Linked DNA regions of Homo sapiens: region 1 is linked to region 2. A link means that fine-mapping ties the variant in region 2 to the expression of a gene that starts in the linked region. Tissue or cell type: cerebellar hemisphere. Region 2 holds a variant in brackets; the other region holds the start of a gene. All regions are shown on one strand. Distances are from middle to middle.

Region 1 (8,105 bases), 620 kb before region 2:
GAATTTTTAAAAATAGTGTGGGGGCAAACAAATGAAAATCAATGCTACCAGGAAGACTGATACCTTACCAGTCCCCTTTCCCCCACAATAGGTAAACATAACTTTAAAAAGGGGTGACCTATTATAGCAACACCACACCCCGCAGTTGCTTTCCTATGGTAATAAATGACTTTGTAATACAAAATAAATTACAACTGTCAATTTCTACAGAGAAATATGGATAAGTGCACATAAACATTAAAAAATACACATATGTTGTAACTTATACCTATATGCCCACAAGTCTAAAACCAAAATCTTCCTCTTATATAGCATCACATAAAAGTGAAAATATTTTGAATGCTGTGGATTTTATTTAGGCGCTAGTGTATTCTCAAATTTGAAGTGATGTATTTTAAATAAAGGAATCACTTCTTTTAAAAATGGCTTATTAAACAAACAATCCTTTACCCATTACCCCCTAAACAAACAAAAAATCCCATAAACCAAAGTGCTAAAAATGTATGGTTATACTTAACCAGCCTGGTGGAATTTAAAGCTTGCCCCCAACTCTTCCCAAAACTCACGTAATTTGAATGAGAATACAAAACTCAAAACAAAAACCATCAGTAAAAAGCAAAACCCAGGAGTTCTGGTACTTTAGGTATAATTACGTTTAAAATAGAAATGAGATCTCCTAAAATTTCATTAAATCAAATTTTATAGAGAAGATAATTAGCACCTTCTATGAAATTTTCATAAGATGACCCAAAATAAATAGCTTTGAACAAAGGTAATGAAAAGGGATCTGTTATCACAATTCTTGTTATGAGGGCAGTACAAAATAGTATGAATTATAAACTCAGCTATTCCACTTACTAATGTAAATTATATTTACAGCCCTACAGAGATTTATAAAAGCCATAAGATTTTTTATTTGAATATTTTTTAACAATGCGTATTTGACTTAATGCGAACATACACACTATAAGCTTCAAAATTTAACTACTATTCATAAAAGAATATAAACGTCTATTAAATTAAAACAATTGTTTCTCAAAGCATCTACAGCTGTTTATCAGTTAGTTTGCCGCTGTTCTTTGAAAACGACACCTGCCTTTTATCAAGATGCAATTAAATGGAATGACAAGCTCGGTAATAAATGGAAATATACTGAGGCTGTCTCAGGCAACATCGAACAAAAATCAACTGAAAATCAACCAGATAAAAAACAGCACACCCACACTGTTGTATACAATATATTTCTTCATAATGAATTTATCAAAGGAACTAAATAATAGATACGCACCTGTGCTTACCTGTTGTCTAAATTAAGAAACATAAATGTTTTGTAAATTAAAGTTTTAGTTCACTGCAGTTACTGAATTAGCAAAATGTATATTTTCACTAGATGCGAAAAGTTTTTTAAATAAGATGTTCAATTTTTATGGAAAATGTTAAAAAGATCATTCGTGAACCTTAAGAAAATTAGTTTCTTTGCATCAAAATAAAAGAAACAACTGTCCGGTAATCTGCATCCAACAAATATATGTAGTTTAAGGTGAAAAATTCCTATCAAAGGAAAAAAACTAAATTTTTCACTCAGTTTTTAACCAATAAAGAACAGTGACAAATATATAAAAGTCTTGTTAATTTCAACCAGCAGAAACATAATTTTGCGAAAACAGCCTCTTCAGTTTTACTTTTAATATACATTTGAGAACCACACGAAAATCCTTTCTGAGAGGAAAAAAAACTATTAAAAACCAACTTTTTTTCTAAACTCTCGTCCTAACGTTTCGTAGCTATTTCCGTGGTTCTCTGGCTAAAAGTATATTTTTTCGTAAAGTCGAGAATTATAGTTTAGCGTTCAACATTCAAACCCCCCAGGCCCGCTTCCTTCCAGCCAATCAGGGGGTAACAAGTCCAGAGTTTAGGGAGCTCCGTTAGACACAATTTGAAAAACATCACATTGCACTCTTCTATTCTCCTCCGGGAAACATTCTAAGCGAGGGCGGGTCCCCCAGTCTTCATAGAATATAAGAAATAAATCAATCGTTACATCAATTCCACGGGGAAAAACTCTGTAGGCAGGCAGTCCTAAAGAAGCGTGTCACCGCGGTTCCCAGGAAGCGTTATTCCTCTTTGCGAACAACTGAACAGAATAGCTGCTGCAGAAAGCATCTCCGGAATATTTGCAACCCAGAGCCGTGCGCCCCACACGCAATACACCGGCAAAGGGTTAATCTAGTGGTGCCTCCAGCGCGGAAAAGAACTCAAGATCTAATACATCCTTAACGCGGGATTTTTACAAAGGCCATAGAAGTATTACCTAAAGTTAATGCCGTCACTGGCTCACATCACTCAAGAGCTGTGGAGTAAGAATTGATAGAAACCACCAGCTAAGGGGGAAAAAAAAAATCACCGAAGGGAAAGACAAATAACAACTCTCGTCCCTCCTCCTCAGCGTCAAGAAAAGGTGGGGATCGCAAAATTACCGTTAAGTTGTCCGGGTAAAGACTTTTGGGGGAGGAAAACATTAATAGTTTCACAGATTGCTTTTTTCCTTGCGACATGTTTCAAACACCGGAGAAGAAAAAAGTCTTCTAAGAAAGTGCGACTCGGAGGAAATAGCCACGAGAAGGAAATCGTTAGCTCGAAGCCCCATCTTTCATCTCACCCGTGAACACTCCTCCCCTTTGAGAAAGGACAACGCTGCGAGAGCAAATGACAAAAATCCCCAGAAAGAAGCTAAAGTCCAGCATCTTTCCTAAGAGCCCGCTACAACCTCAAAAGCCTGCCCCTGCCCCATCTTGGAAGCGCGAGCCGCGGCCAGTCCTACCTACCTAGAGACCTCACCGGGACCCAGCGCGCCGGGGGAGGGCAGCCAGGGCTTGGGAAACTCTTTCCTGGGGCACCTCACGCTTCAGCGTCAAAAGACAATATAGATAGATGGGTGCCGGGCGGTGGCGGGGGGGACTGTTGCCACGACCCACCGGAGGGACCCATGACTCCGGGTCCTGAATTTTCTGTCGACCTTAAGTTTCTTGTCACGAGATGACGGCCATCACCGGGTCGAGAAAACGGCGAGAAAAGGCGGCCCGGTTCGGAAATGGGGGAGGGGCGCGCGTCCAGTCCTCCTGTCAAGGAGCGGCCGCCTGCAGAGACCCCGCAGTGCGCCGTCCCCGGCTCCGGTCCCGGGCGGGGGGTCTTGCTGACAGATCCGCTGGGCGGCGGCTGCTCCGCCGCAGCCGGTCCGCGTCCCGCTCAAACTGCAGCTCCCCTCCCCCCACAGCCCCGTCTCTCCGCGCTCCCGCCACATTCCGCCCGCCGCCGCCCACTCGCAGACGCCCAAGTTGCCCCTAACCCTACTTCCTCGGATTTTTCGCGATTAAGTGAGAGTAGACCCCGCGCCCACTCCCTGCACCCACCACTGCCTGCGGGTCCCACCACTGCCACCTCCCGAGTCCCGCTCTGCTACTTCTTCAGGCTCTTACCGACTGCGCCAGCCTTGGCGAAGCTCCGCCGACTGCCCTTTGCTCCAAGTAATTTTTGGCGATTTTTAAAGTAATTTTTCCGGCGGAGTCATAGTGGCGCTATACTCTCGGACAGGTTATCCTGTCTCTCCCGCTAGATTGATGAGATCAGGCATCACTCGAAAATGGCGCCGAAAGCGCTGAGGCTCCTCATTCAAATTCGTTAGAGCCAACCCCGCCGCCCCAGGGAATGCCGGGAACGCGGGCTGCCTCCACAGCTGTCAATACCGCCTCTTAACCCCCCTTCTCTTGCTTTCCCGACATTTTTACGCATGCGCAAACTCCAACCCTCCCCCCTCCTCCCGCCAGGCACATGCGCAGAATCATCGTGGTGCACGGCTCTCCCTTTGCTTCTTCGGTTGCAGTCCTCTTGCTTCTTGCGCGTGCGTGTAGCGCTTTTGCAAAGCCGCGGAGGTGAAGTGAACTTAGAGGTTGTGGGGCCGAGGGGTCGTCTTATAGCTACCAGCCCACAGGCATTTAGTCTACGTTGGAGGTAAACAAATACGGGTCCTGCTTAGGAGAAAAGAAAAACGTCTTACAGCCAGTGTCTAAACTCCAAACAACGGAATGTATCAATGAGACCTTGTATATGGATACACGTGCATTTAAAACCGCCCTGCCGGCTTGTAGAGCTTTTGCCGTTCTCCAGCGCTTTACAGGGGTTATCGCACTTAAGCCTCGGAACAACTTTACCAGGTAGGAACTATTACTGTTCTCGTTTTGAAGACCAGGAAACCTAGGCTCAGAGACGTTAAGTAATTTGCCCAAGACAGCACAGGTGGCACAGAAGTGGATGAATCCACATCTGTCAGATTCAGCAGCCCTGGAGTTCTCTACCACGCTGTACGATTCAACCTGAGCCCACACAGGAGGCGTGGTCTCCTTCTTCAACGGTGTGTGTGTGTGTGCGCGCGCGCCTGCCTAGAGTTAATGATTAAGTTTGCTGAAGCCCTTCTTCCCGGTCCTAAGCTGCCTGTTGCGAAGGCGCTTTCATTGAATTCAGTTTCTCTTACCGTCTTAACTTGTTCATAAACTTTTTGAGATAGGAATGGGCAGTTTTTCTGTGTCACTTAGGATGATTTTTTTTTTTAATGGCGTGATAAGTGAACTGAATCCAGCAAAGACGAGTTTCTGTTGTGCAACACGTTGGTATACTGACAGCTACCACGTATTGACTGTGTACTGTGTGCTGGGCACTGTGCTAAATAAATGATTTACGAATTAATCGTGTTTATTGCTCACAACAGCCTTATGAAGTAGGTATTATCTTCACTTTACAGATGAGGACACCTGAGGTTCAGATTAAGAAATCTGCCCCAAAGTCTTAGAACTGGTAAGTAGAAGCACCATATCTAGGCAAACCTGTCTACCTTCAAAAAAAATGGGCACTCTGATAGGACAATTAACGATAATAAAGTTGTAATTTTTTTTTTTTTTTGAGACGGAGCCTCGCTCTGTCGCCAGGCTGGAGTGCAGTGGCGCGATCTCGGCTCACTGCAGCCTCCGCCTCCCGGGTTCAAGCAATTCTCCTGCCTCAGCCTCCCGAGTAGCTGGGACTACAGGCAAGTGCCACCACGCCCAGCTAATTTTTGTACTTTTAATAGAGACGGGGTTTCACCATGTTGGCCAGAAGGGTCTCGATCTCTTGACCTCGCGATCCGCCCGCCTCGGCCTCCCAAAGTGTTGGGATTACAGGCGTGAGCCACCGCGTGGAGCCCTATAAAGTTGTAAATATTTTAAAACCTTCATTGTGAATGTTAAATAAGAGAGTAGATATGAAAGTGCCTGAAGTACTAATAAGGAAGTGGGAGAAGGGTAGCATGGTTTGCATTATTTAAGTGTCTTGGAAAAGAAATGGATTTTAGCAATTTGAGATCAGCAAGAAGTAACGTGGCAGAGTAGTATAAATACACTACTTAATCTCTGGTACTTTTTTGCACTACTTAAGTGGGTCGACTCTGGAACCGAGCTGCCTGGGTGAATCCCAGCTCCACTACTTACTAGCTGTGCCTTGTTGGGTAAATTATCTGTTGGACCTTTTGTAAAACAAGTACTATTAATACCTCATTGGACTGTTGTAAGGATGTAAATGAGCTAACATATTAAAGGAATTTCAACAGTGCTTGGCATATTAGTAAATGTTTGTTATTGTCAGTCAGTCATTGATCTTTTAAACTGGCTTCTTTAATGGTTGTTCAAAAATCAAACTACAGTTAGTGCCTTTAGGGGTCAGCATTTTTTTTCTTTTTTTTTCTGAGAGGGAGCCTCACTCTGTTGCCCAGGCTGGTTGGATCACTGCAACCTCTGCCTCCCGGGTTCAAGCAGTTCTCCTGCCTCAGCCTCCCATGTAGCTGGGATTACAGGTGCGCGCCACCACGCCCGGCTAATTTTTGTATTTTTAGTAGAGACGGGGTTTCACCATGTTGGTCAGGCTGGTCTCCAACTCCTGACCTCGTGATCTGTCTGCCTTTGCCTCCCAAAGTGCTGGGATTATAGGCGTGAGCCACCGCGCTGGGCGGGGTTAGCATTCTTATTCAAGAGCTCCTTAAAATGATAAATCAAACTGACAAATGATTTTTCCCAAATATGAATAATGATCCCTGTTAGGCAAATAAGGATGTTAATTTATTTTACCATCTCATAAGAATAATACCTGGAAATGGAATAGATTTATTGCTTTTTCTGATTGTTAAGGTTAAAAAACCGAGGCCCATCTAAAATATATATAAAGTAAAAATCATCCAAATTTCTAGCATTCAGGGATAACCACATATTGTTTGTACTTTAAAAATATAATGTACCTGTGGGGACAATCAGCTAGGGGGGGTCTGGATAAGTGGTATATTTGGGAGACATGTGTAAAATTGTACTAGAACTTACAAATAGGTAAGTAGCACAATCTGGTTTCCTCACTGTAGAATTTTTTATCTTAGTCCCCTTTTAGATATAATATGTCAAGAGAATTCTAAAGTGATGATGATAAATGATAACATTTATTGAAGACCTAATATGTGTCAGACACTGGGCTAAGCATGTACATGCATTTTTCCATCGAATCATCATGTAACTCATTAAGTGGGTGCAATTATCTCTATTTTGCAGAGACTAAAGTTTATGTGTAAGTCACTTTTAGAAGATTTAAGTCTAATTGTGTTTAAAGTCTTATTTAAGAAAAAATCTTTCATGAAAGCTTCTTGATTTGCTAAAATGGGAGAAAACAAAATCAACTAACATACAGTAGTTCCTATGCCTGAACAGAGAGCCCGATTGTAAAAAACGGTCTTTTGAAAACTAAGAATTTTATATTTGACCACAAGGGGGTGCAAATTCCTGAGTTAAATTTCAAAGGAAAAACGGGAAAAGTGCTTTTACTTTAGACCATCAAATTCGTGGGTTAAAACTAGTAAGAATTCCTGCCTGGAACTTTAATACCCTACAAAGTAATGTACTTTATAAGAAGAAAGAACTCAATTACTTAGGTGCTCAATTAGGGCAGAAGTGTCAGCTTGCTTTCTTCAATACAGTCAAGAGTTAATCATCCCTCCCCCACCCCTTTCCACTCACAGTTAGTTTGTGTCTCTGCATACCCCTCTTTACTTGTCAATAAGAGTAGAACTGAAGTCATAATTTAAAATCTGGGGTTTTGCTCTTGGAAACTGAAATGCAATCACCAGCTAATGGATGCTAAATATGGGTAGTGTGAAGAACAGAGGTCTTGTAATTTCTATGCTTTTTTTCCCTCCTGCTGAAGTTTATAATGAGTAAGCTACAACTGATGCAATGTTGGCTTCAACATATTAACTTATTTAGATAAAACTGTGAAAGCTATAGGTCTGTTCATCTTTCAAGAAAGAATGCAGGCCGGGCGCGGTGGCTCACGCCTGTAATCCCAGCACTTTGGGAGGCCGAGGCAGGCGGATCACGAGGTCAGGAGATCGAGACCATCCTGGCTAACATGGTGAAACCCCGTCTCTACTAAAAATACAAAAAAATTAGCTGAGCGTGGTGGCAGGCGCCTGTAGTCCCAGCTACTCGGGAGGCTGAGGCAGGAGAATGGCATGAACCTGGGAGGCGGAGCTTGCAGTGAGCCGAGATCGCGCCACTGCACTCCAGCCTGGGCCACTGAGCAAGACTCTGTCTCGAGAAAAAAAAAAGAAAGAAAGAATGCAGACAGTACCTTGAAAACAGTATATACTACTGAATGTATTAAAAACTTTGCTTAGCAGGGTTTTCAACTTCCTTTTATTTTCGTGTTGGTCTTGTTTCTCTGAGATGGGACTTAATTTAAAAAATACAACTTTTTTTGGAAATAATTTCAAATTTACAAAAAGTTACAATATTAAAAAGAGTTCAAAGAACATCTATATCATTTGCTTGCTCTTGTACATGGGTGAGTTTTCTTTTTCTCTCTCTCTCCATATACACAGTCTATAAAAAACACACAGAGGAAAAATACAAGAAAAAAACTTTCAACCCATATCAAGGTTTTATGATTATAGTTAAAAATATACATATCAAAAAGTCAAACTAAAATTTTGCAGTGTTGACACTGCCAAACTATTCTTTTAAGGAACATTGGTGTTCTATCAG
Region 2 (8,105 bases):
AGTGAGAAGTGACCAAAATCAAAATTTGATGCCAAGCATTTTAGGGAATCAGGAAATAAAATATGTAAAAAAAAAAAAAATATATATATATATATATATAAAAATATGTGTGTGTGTATCTATCATATATATGTACATCTATCATGTATATACATATATGTGTGTATGTATACACATGTACATACATACATTGGATGTGTTGGAATGGCATAGTTTTAGTCCTCTGGGAATTATTTGTAGAAGACATATATCCGTGTAAGATAAATCAAAGTCAAAATTTACCATAAAACTAATGATCATTTTCCAACTGGCTTCTTATGAGACTCAAAAAACTTCACAGACATAAAAATCACTTTGAAAACATAATGCTTTTTAGCGATAGATAATACGTTACTGATAATTAATAGACAGATACAGCTGTATCTATATAATCAATATTGTGACATGTCACTCATAAGTACTTCAGCTTGCATTTTCTAAGAATAAGGACATTCTACTACATAACATTTTCATTATTATAGCCAAGAAAAAATAACATATAACATATCTAATATACAGGCCAGATTTGAATTCCCCAATTTTCCCAAAATTGACTTTCATATATTTTTTTCTCTGATCCAGGATCCCGTCAAGATTCACACATTATATTTGGTTGCTATTATCTCTTTGATCTCTTTAACTATAGTATAGTTCTCAGTTCTCCTGTCTTTGCACTTTTTAAAAGTTTTTTGTAGAGACAAGGGTCTCACTTTGCTACCCAGGCTGGTCTCAAACTCTTGGCTTCAAGTAATCCTCCCGCCTTGTCCTCCCAAAGTTGGGATCCTTTGTACTTTTTTTTTTTAATGACATTTTTATGAATTCAAGGGAATTGTCTTCCTGAATGTCCCATTGTCTGGTTTTATATGATAGTTTTCTCATGATTAGATTCAGGTTAGCCTATTTGGTAAGATATTGCACATAATTTACATTTTTAAAACATTATTTTAATCATAAATATAGTATAGTACTGTAGCAGAAAACTTGGAAAGTAGAAAAGAAAGAGAAGCCACCAATAATCCCACTGACCTGACTCACACGATAGCATTCCAATGCATTTCCAGCCTTTTCCTTATTATTCTTTTTAGCATAGTTTTAATTATATTGCCAATCCAACTTTGTATTCTGGTGGATTTTTATGTAATATCACATCCTAAGCAGTTTCACTGTAAGTAATGGCATCAATACTAACAATATTAACTGCCATTTATTGAGTACTTAATGAGTCAGAAGCAGTATCAGGCAAACTATATTTATTTATTTATTTTAAAGTTCATTACAGCCGTATGAAATAAGTTCTATTAATATCCCTGTTTTAGAATTGAGAAAACTGAGACTCTGATACCACAGCTGGTAATGGGTAAGGAAGAAATTTGAAACCAGATGAATGTGATTCTATCCCACTATCTGTCTCCTATAATTTCTATTGAATGTGCTTTGACCTGTTCATTTCATGTAAACACACTAGTAGCTCTTATCAGCTTAGGCCTGCCCTGCTGCTTTAGCATATTTGACAAACCCTAACTTTTTCTTTGGACTGCCCCTTCAGCTTATGAGCAAAGCCCTGCACTGGCTTCAGAGACTAGTGCTATTTTTTGCCTAAGAACTTAAATCTTAACCAAATTTGGTTTACCCAGTCTATTTTTATTTCTCAAGGAGGCAATGCAACAAAGTCATCAAAAAGACTGGGTCAGGGGTGGGTGAATAAAATCAATCAAGTGAGACTACTGCCAGGGCCAAAGTCTTAAGCATTCCAGGCTTAAATTCCACCACCATGGGTGGTGGTGGCAGGTTTCTGTCCCTGGGCCCCAGAGGCCCCTCTTCGAGGAGGTATTGCCCCTGACAGCGGCATGGCTGTGGATTGGGGATCTCTCTTCTCTTCGGCTCTAATAGGAGACCCTGAAATTTAAGCTGTGCAAAATGATCCTGATGTAAAGGGCCTCTGACCCAAGCACACCCCAGTGATTAGAAATGTGTCAGATGTCAAAGCCTGAAGAAGCACAACTTCTAATACTTCTCAATGCCCTTTAATGTGGGTTATATGCCTACATTTGTCTTACAGCTCATGGTGCCATCCAGGGAGGAGGCAGCAGCAGTAGGAGAAAGCTTTGCCAGCACAACCTTTGGGAGGGGTGTGAGCACAGCACAAAGGAGCCTAATGCATTTCAACCGCAGCCAAGTTAGTGGTTTAGACTTCATAAACATGTTTTAAATGTTATGACTCTTTATGCCATGGCATTCCTACTCCAAAGGATAGCTACCTAAAAATTTAAATATATAAAAAATTAAAAACCCCAATTCAGCAAATAGTTCAAGACTTTGATGAGAAGAAAAGCTGATTAATCATTTTCTTGTTGCTTGCCTTTCTTTTGACATTTTTCTGACCTTTTCCAAAACCATTACACATCTGGGATGCTCAATCATTTACTAAAAGGGTTAAGGCAATATAACCTCCTTGTGATTAAGAATAAAAATGAAGTGGAATGGAGTCCTTCACAGTTTTACAGTTTTACTTGACTCAGGGGTTGGAGGTGGTGATGAGGACCTAGAAAAGTTTCTATTATAATAATTTTCTTTAGTATTTGGTATTGAGAATGATGGGAAAAAATCAAGAGATGTGATTAACCCATGAAACTAGCTATATTTGGTTACAGACTGCCCTAGCCCTATAAGTTATTTTGCGATGCTATCTGTAATGCATTTAAAGAGCCTGTTGTTACCGACATGTGTCAGTTATCTATTGCTATCATGATGCTTCATAAAAAATAAACACAAACGTTCAGTAGCATATGATAATAGATATTTATAACTCCTGCATTTGGAGTGCTTAGCTAGGCAGTATGCTGATCTTGGCTGTGCACGTTCACATATCTGGGGGTAAATTGGCTGTCAGCTGATCAAGGCTTCCCTTGACTGGGATGATTGGGGCAATTTGGCTCAGTTCCAATTATCTTTCATTCTCCAGCAGACATATTCTTGAGGCAATGACAGAGGCACAAGAAAGCAAGCCTCAATGCACAAGACCATTTCAAGTCTTTTGTTGTGTCATATCTCCTAAATTCCATGGGACAAAGCTAATTTTGAGCCCAATTTCAAGTGGTGGAGCAGGTTACCTTATCCACAGTAGGAGGACATTACAAAGTTACCTGCAAAGACCTCGTTAAAGGGATGGTAAAAACCTGGGTCCGTATACCAGGTGATACTATGTCGTGTAGGGTTAAAGTCAGTATGAATTGTTTACCAACAGCTAACATCCAGTGCAGATCCAATCATGAGGACAAGCTGTGCAATAACAACAGGCACGTTGGTGGCTGGTTTCATAAGCCAAGGTAGAAGAAATAAGTTAGGATCAAAAAGTGACCAGGGCTGGGTGGTGGCTTACTCCTGTAATCCCAGCACTTTGGGAGGCCAAGGCAGGTGGGTTGCTTGAGCCCAGGAGTTCAAGACCAGCCTGGGCAACATGGAGAAACTCTGTCACTACCAAAAAAAAAATTAGGCATGATGGCATGTGCCTGTAGTCCCAGCAGCTTGGGAAGCTGAGGTGGGTGGTGTGCTTGAACCCAGGAGATCAAGGCTGCAGTGAGCAGTAGTTGTGCTGCTGCACTCCAGCCTGGGCAACAGAGCAAGACCAAGACCCTGTCAGAAAAAAAAAAAAAAAAAAAAAAAAGGTGGCCAGAAATGTAAATCCTTCCTAAAGTGATCTGTAGATTCAATGCAGCCTCAATACAAATCCTAGCAAGATCTGTTGTAGAAATCAACAAGCAGATTCTAAAATTTTTATGGAAAAGCAAAGTAAACAGATTAGTGAAAAGAATTTGGAGAAAAAACAAAGTTAATCTAAAGAATTAACTCTAAAGCTACAGTGTCAAAAGTATGCATGTTGGTGAAAGAGTCACCACAAGTCAATGAAATTAAACTGAATCCAAAATAAATCCACAAATATAAGGATAATTGATTTTCAACTAAGGAACAAAGGAAATTCAATGGAGGATAGTTTTTTTCAACAGATGTCAGCGAAACAGATACCTATATGCAAAAACATGATTCTCAACCCATCCCTTGCCTCAAATACAAAATCAACTCAAATTGGAACATAGGCCTACATGTAAAACCTAACAATAAGAAATTTCTAGAGGAAAAGATAGGGAAGAGATTTTTGCAACCATCGATAAGTGCTGCTTTCTTAGCTAGGCCACACACAAAAATTAAGTAGGACTTCATTGAAATAAAAAGTGCTGTTCTTTGAAATATACTGTTAAGAAAAAAAATAAATAGACAAGCCACAGACTGGGACAAAATATTTACAAAATACGTATGTTATGAAAGACTTGTTTTCAGAATATATAAAGAACTCTGACAAATAATAATAAAAGTAAACTAACAACCTAATAAAAAATGGCCAAAAGACTTGGACATTTCAGCAAAGAAGGTATGTGGAAGGCAAATGAACAAATGAAAAGACACTCAACAGTATTCGTCATTAAGGATATGCAAATTAAAAACAGTGAAATACTGCCATACCTCTTTTTAACAATAGAAACTTTAAAACGGCAAGGTCAAGAGCTGATAAGGATGCAGAGTAATTGGAACTCTCAGGTATTGCTGGTGGTAATGCTAAGTGCCACTTAAGAAGTCAGTCTGACAATTTCTTATAAAGTTGAATGTCACTTATACAACTGAGCATTTGGATATTTACCCAAGAGAAATGAAAACATAAAGCATTGGAGTATCTACCCGAGAGATATAAAACATCTTCATGTTG[C/A]GAGGCATTATTCACAACCTCCAAAAAATTACGAACAACCCAAATAACCACCGCCCAGTAAATAAATGAACAGACTCTGTTACATTGATACAATGGAATATGACAGCAATTAAAGAGAATAACTTGTGCTATATGTAACAACACGGATGAACTCAAATGCATAATGCTAAGTGAAAAAAAGCCAGACTTAAAAGACCACCTGCTCTGTCCTTTCATATGAATCACATGCCACAAAAGGCAAACTATAGGGACAGTAATTGCCAGGGGCTGAGAATGGAGAGAGAGGACTGATCACAAAGGTGCAGAGAGAATGCTCTAGGTCTTGATTGTGGTGGTGCTTACACAACTGTATGTGTTTTTCAAGATCCATCAAACTGCACACTTAAAAAGGGTAAATTTTACTGTATATAAATTATACCTTGAAAAACCTGACTTTAAAAAAAGGGAAGCCAGGGAAGCAAAAGACAGAGCCAGATACATCATACATCACTAACTAGGTGTGTAGCTGAAGCTTCTGTTCCAGCCGCTAAGCATGTGCTGAGCCACGTGCCACCTTTTCTTAGTCTTTTCAGTCAACAGCTATTGTTAGAAAAGACATCTTGAACCAAAAGCTTAGACATTTTAGTACTCTTTTACCCAGATTCCTTTTCTAGAAATGTGTCCTACAGAATGAACCTTAAATTACTTAAGCGCTGATGATGCCTCTTGTGCAGCTCTCTACAGCAATAGATGTAAGAAGTGCTCACTTTCTGAGCTTTGAGGTCATGTGTCTAACTTCTTCTGTTTCCCTTTAGAAAGAATGTGTGCTTGAGTCAGGTTGGTCTGCCACACCTGAGCATTCCATACTCTCTTTAGTCAAATCTCTGGGTTGATAAAATTGATTACTGAGGAGATGATAATAAGATGCTTAACTCCAGATTCTACAGACTGCCTTGGTCTATATCATAGACTATATCTCAGGCCATACCTGCAGGAGGCCCATGGCAGCTTAGAGGGCTGCCTTGTAGAAACTTTGGTCAAATCAAGTCACATCCTAAAGAGAAGAAAGTGGCTAACTTTTAGAAATTGCTGAAACAGATCCTTCTATTGAATAGAAGCCACCCTGAATGGTTGCTCACTCACCATACAGCCTGGAAGAAACCAGGGTCTCTCCTAGGTTCCTATGGAGAGAGGTCAGAGTGTCTAGTCTAACTCTCAAACTCACTTAAACCACCAAAGAATTCACCCTCAGTTAAGATTTGGCTTTATGGCAGCTGATTGGTGATAGTACTAGGGGCAGGGGAGGTAATTGCCTCACTTCCCAAACTTTCAGTCCTATTGGAAGGTGACACAGCTGTAGTTTTACCCATCTTGAAAATGAGAAGGTGATTGGTCCAACCCCCTCTTACATAGATGAGGAAATGAGCACTTGAGATCTAACTATAAAGCCAGTTAGTAGCAAGTGGTGCCACTGATTAAGCCTCCTGATATTCGGTTATGTGTCTGATCAGCTAGCTTCAGACTAAACTGAGTCTTTTGCTTAATAATTTGCCTAAGAAACGCAGATACAACACACACACACACACAAACACACACACACGACAGAGAAAAATACAACTACCATGCATCATGTACACATCCAATACTAAGGAATCCAAATCAATTCTTCTTCTTTTTTTATTATTTATTTATTTATTTTATTGTTATTATTTTTTGAGACGGAGTTTCACTCTTGTTGCCCAGGCTGGAGTGCAATGGCACAATCTCGGCTCACTGCAATCACAGCCTCCCGGGCTCAGCGATTCTCCTGTCTCAGCCTCCCGAGTATCTGGGATTATAGGTGCCCGCCACTACGCCTGGCTAATTTTTGGTATTTTTAGTAGAGATGGGGCTTCACCATGTTGGCCAGGCTGGTCTTGAACTCCTGACTTCAGGTAATCCGCCCGCCTTGGCCTCCCAAAGTGCTGGGATTACAGGCATGAGCCACCATGCCCGGCCCAATCCTTCTTCTATTGGGGTTGTTATTAAAAGAGAATAGCAGAACAGAAAGAAGTCTTAAGAGTCCAGGCTCTGGAGTGGGCTATTGGGATGCAAAATAATCTAAAGTATTCTGTGCCTCAGTTTCCTTATTTGTACAAAATGGATGATGATAATACCTCTACCATAAGGTTGTTATAAATATTTAACTGGTTGCTATATGTAAAATGCTTAGAATAAAGCCTGACACATCAGTGGAAATTCACTATTACTCTCTCCATTGGACTGAAGCTGGCAGCTTTACAATTACAGCTGTTCACATACCATAGTCCCCATTCCTGGTACAGCTACCTTCTTTGTGGCTCTTCTCTTTAGATCAAAGTAGCACCAGATAGTGCAGCAAAAGATCATGTTCATGTTAGAGAAAACTGGTTCTTTACCTCGAATAGCTTCCCATATGTTCTGTGCAAGGTTGGTGCTATAATTTTTTTAAGTACCTGCAAATTTCATTCAGAATAACCATATTTAACTTTTCTCATATAAATGTGGTGGTTGTTCTGGTATGAGATTCAGCTCCCTGTCTGTTTGGGTCCTTGGGCTTGGTTCACAGCTTCTCAACAGCTGTCTTCAAACACGCAAGAATCTACCCTGCCTAGGCCGACTCTCCCAGACGTGGCCCTAGGGTGTTTGGAGCCATGCTACCTCAGGGTATTTTCTTTTTCTTTCTTTCTTTCTTTCTTTCTTTTCTTTCTTTCTTTCTCTCTTTCTTTCTTTCTCTTTCTTTCTTCCTTCCTTTCTTCCTTCCTTCCTTTTTTTTTTTTTGACATAGGGTCTCACTCTGTTATCCACGCTGGGGTGCAATGGCATGATCATGGCTCACTGCAGCTTCGATGTCCTGGGCTCAAGCAATCCTCCCACCTGAGCGTCCTGAGTAGCTGAGACTACAGACATGCATCACCATGCCCGGTTAATTTTTTTTTTTTTTTAATTTTTGCAGAGATAAGGTCTCGCTGTGTTGCCTAGGCTGGTCTCAAACTCCTAGGCTTAAGCGATCCTCCCACCTCGGCTTCCCAAAGTGCTGGGATTACAGGCCTGAGCCACCTCACCCGGTTGTATTTTCCTTCAATCAATGACATTCAGCTTCCTGCTGTCCCCTCCAAGAGTGTGAAGGGCTGGCATCAGGTTGTTGCTGGAAATATCAAGGCAATCAGAAGGCTGGATCATTCCTGTAGCAGTATTGGCTGAGTGTCCAATGGGCTGGAGCCATTGGAGAAGCCAGTTCTGACCATTACCCAGGGTTTACATCTGACTCCATGGGCTTCACTAAAGTTGTTGGCCTGGTTTGGATAGT

Direction of the effects. Positions count from the first base shown, and alleles are read on the strand shown. Sizes are in standard deviations (SD) of each study's normalised expression.
As copies of C replace A in region 2, the expression in cerebellar hemisphere of the gene that starts at base 3,823 in region 1 goes up (moderate effect, 0.48 SD a copy in GTEx).

What was found. PIP is the estimated chance that this variant, and not a neighbour inherited with it, causes the effect.
Region 1: it holds the start of DLEU1, and the variant in region 2 is fine-mapped to the expression of DLEU1 in cerebellar hemisphere (GTEx, PIP 0.99).

What each region holds. Positions count from the first base shown.
Region 1 is chr13:50,078,347-50,086,451 of GRCh38, forward strand. It overlaps DLEU1 (deleted in lymphocytic leukemia 1), which reads left to right and starts at 3,823. Exons shown (of 7, transcript NR_109974.1): 1 at 3,823-4,211; 2 at 4,796-4,848. All of the region lies in intron 1 of DLEU2 (deleted in lymphocytic leukemia 2), which reads right to left. RefSeq lists enhancers at 2,275-2,334, 3,952-4,747 and silencers at 2,967-3,261, 3,125-3,344, 3,745-3,794.
Region 2 is chr13:50,698,691-50,706,795 of GRCh38, forward strand. No RefSeq gene overlaps it. Among named protein-coding and RNA genes, the nearest start is that of DLEU7-AS1, 110 kb to the right of the region's middle. The variant C/A (reference allele first, on the strand shown) is at 4,799.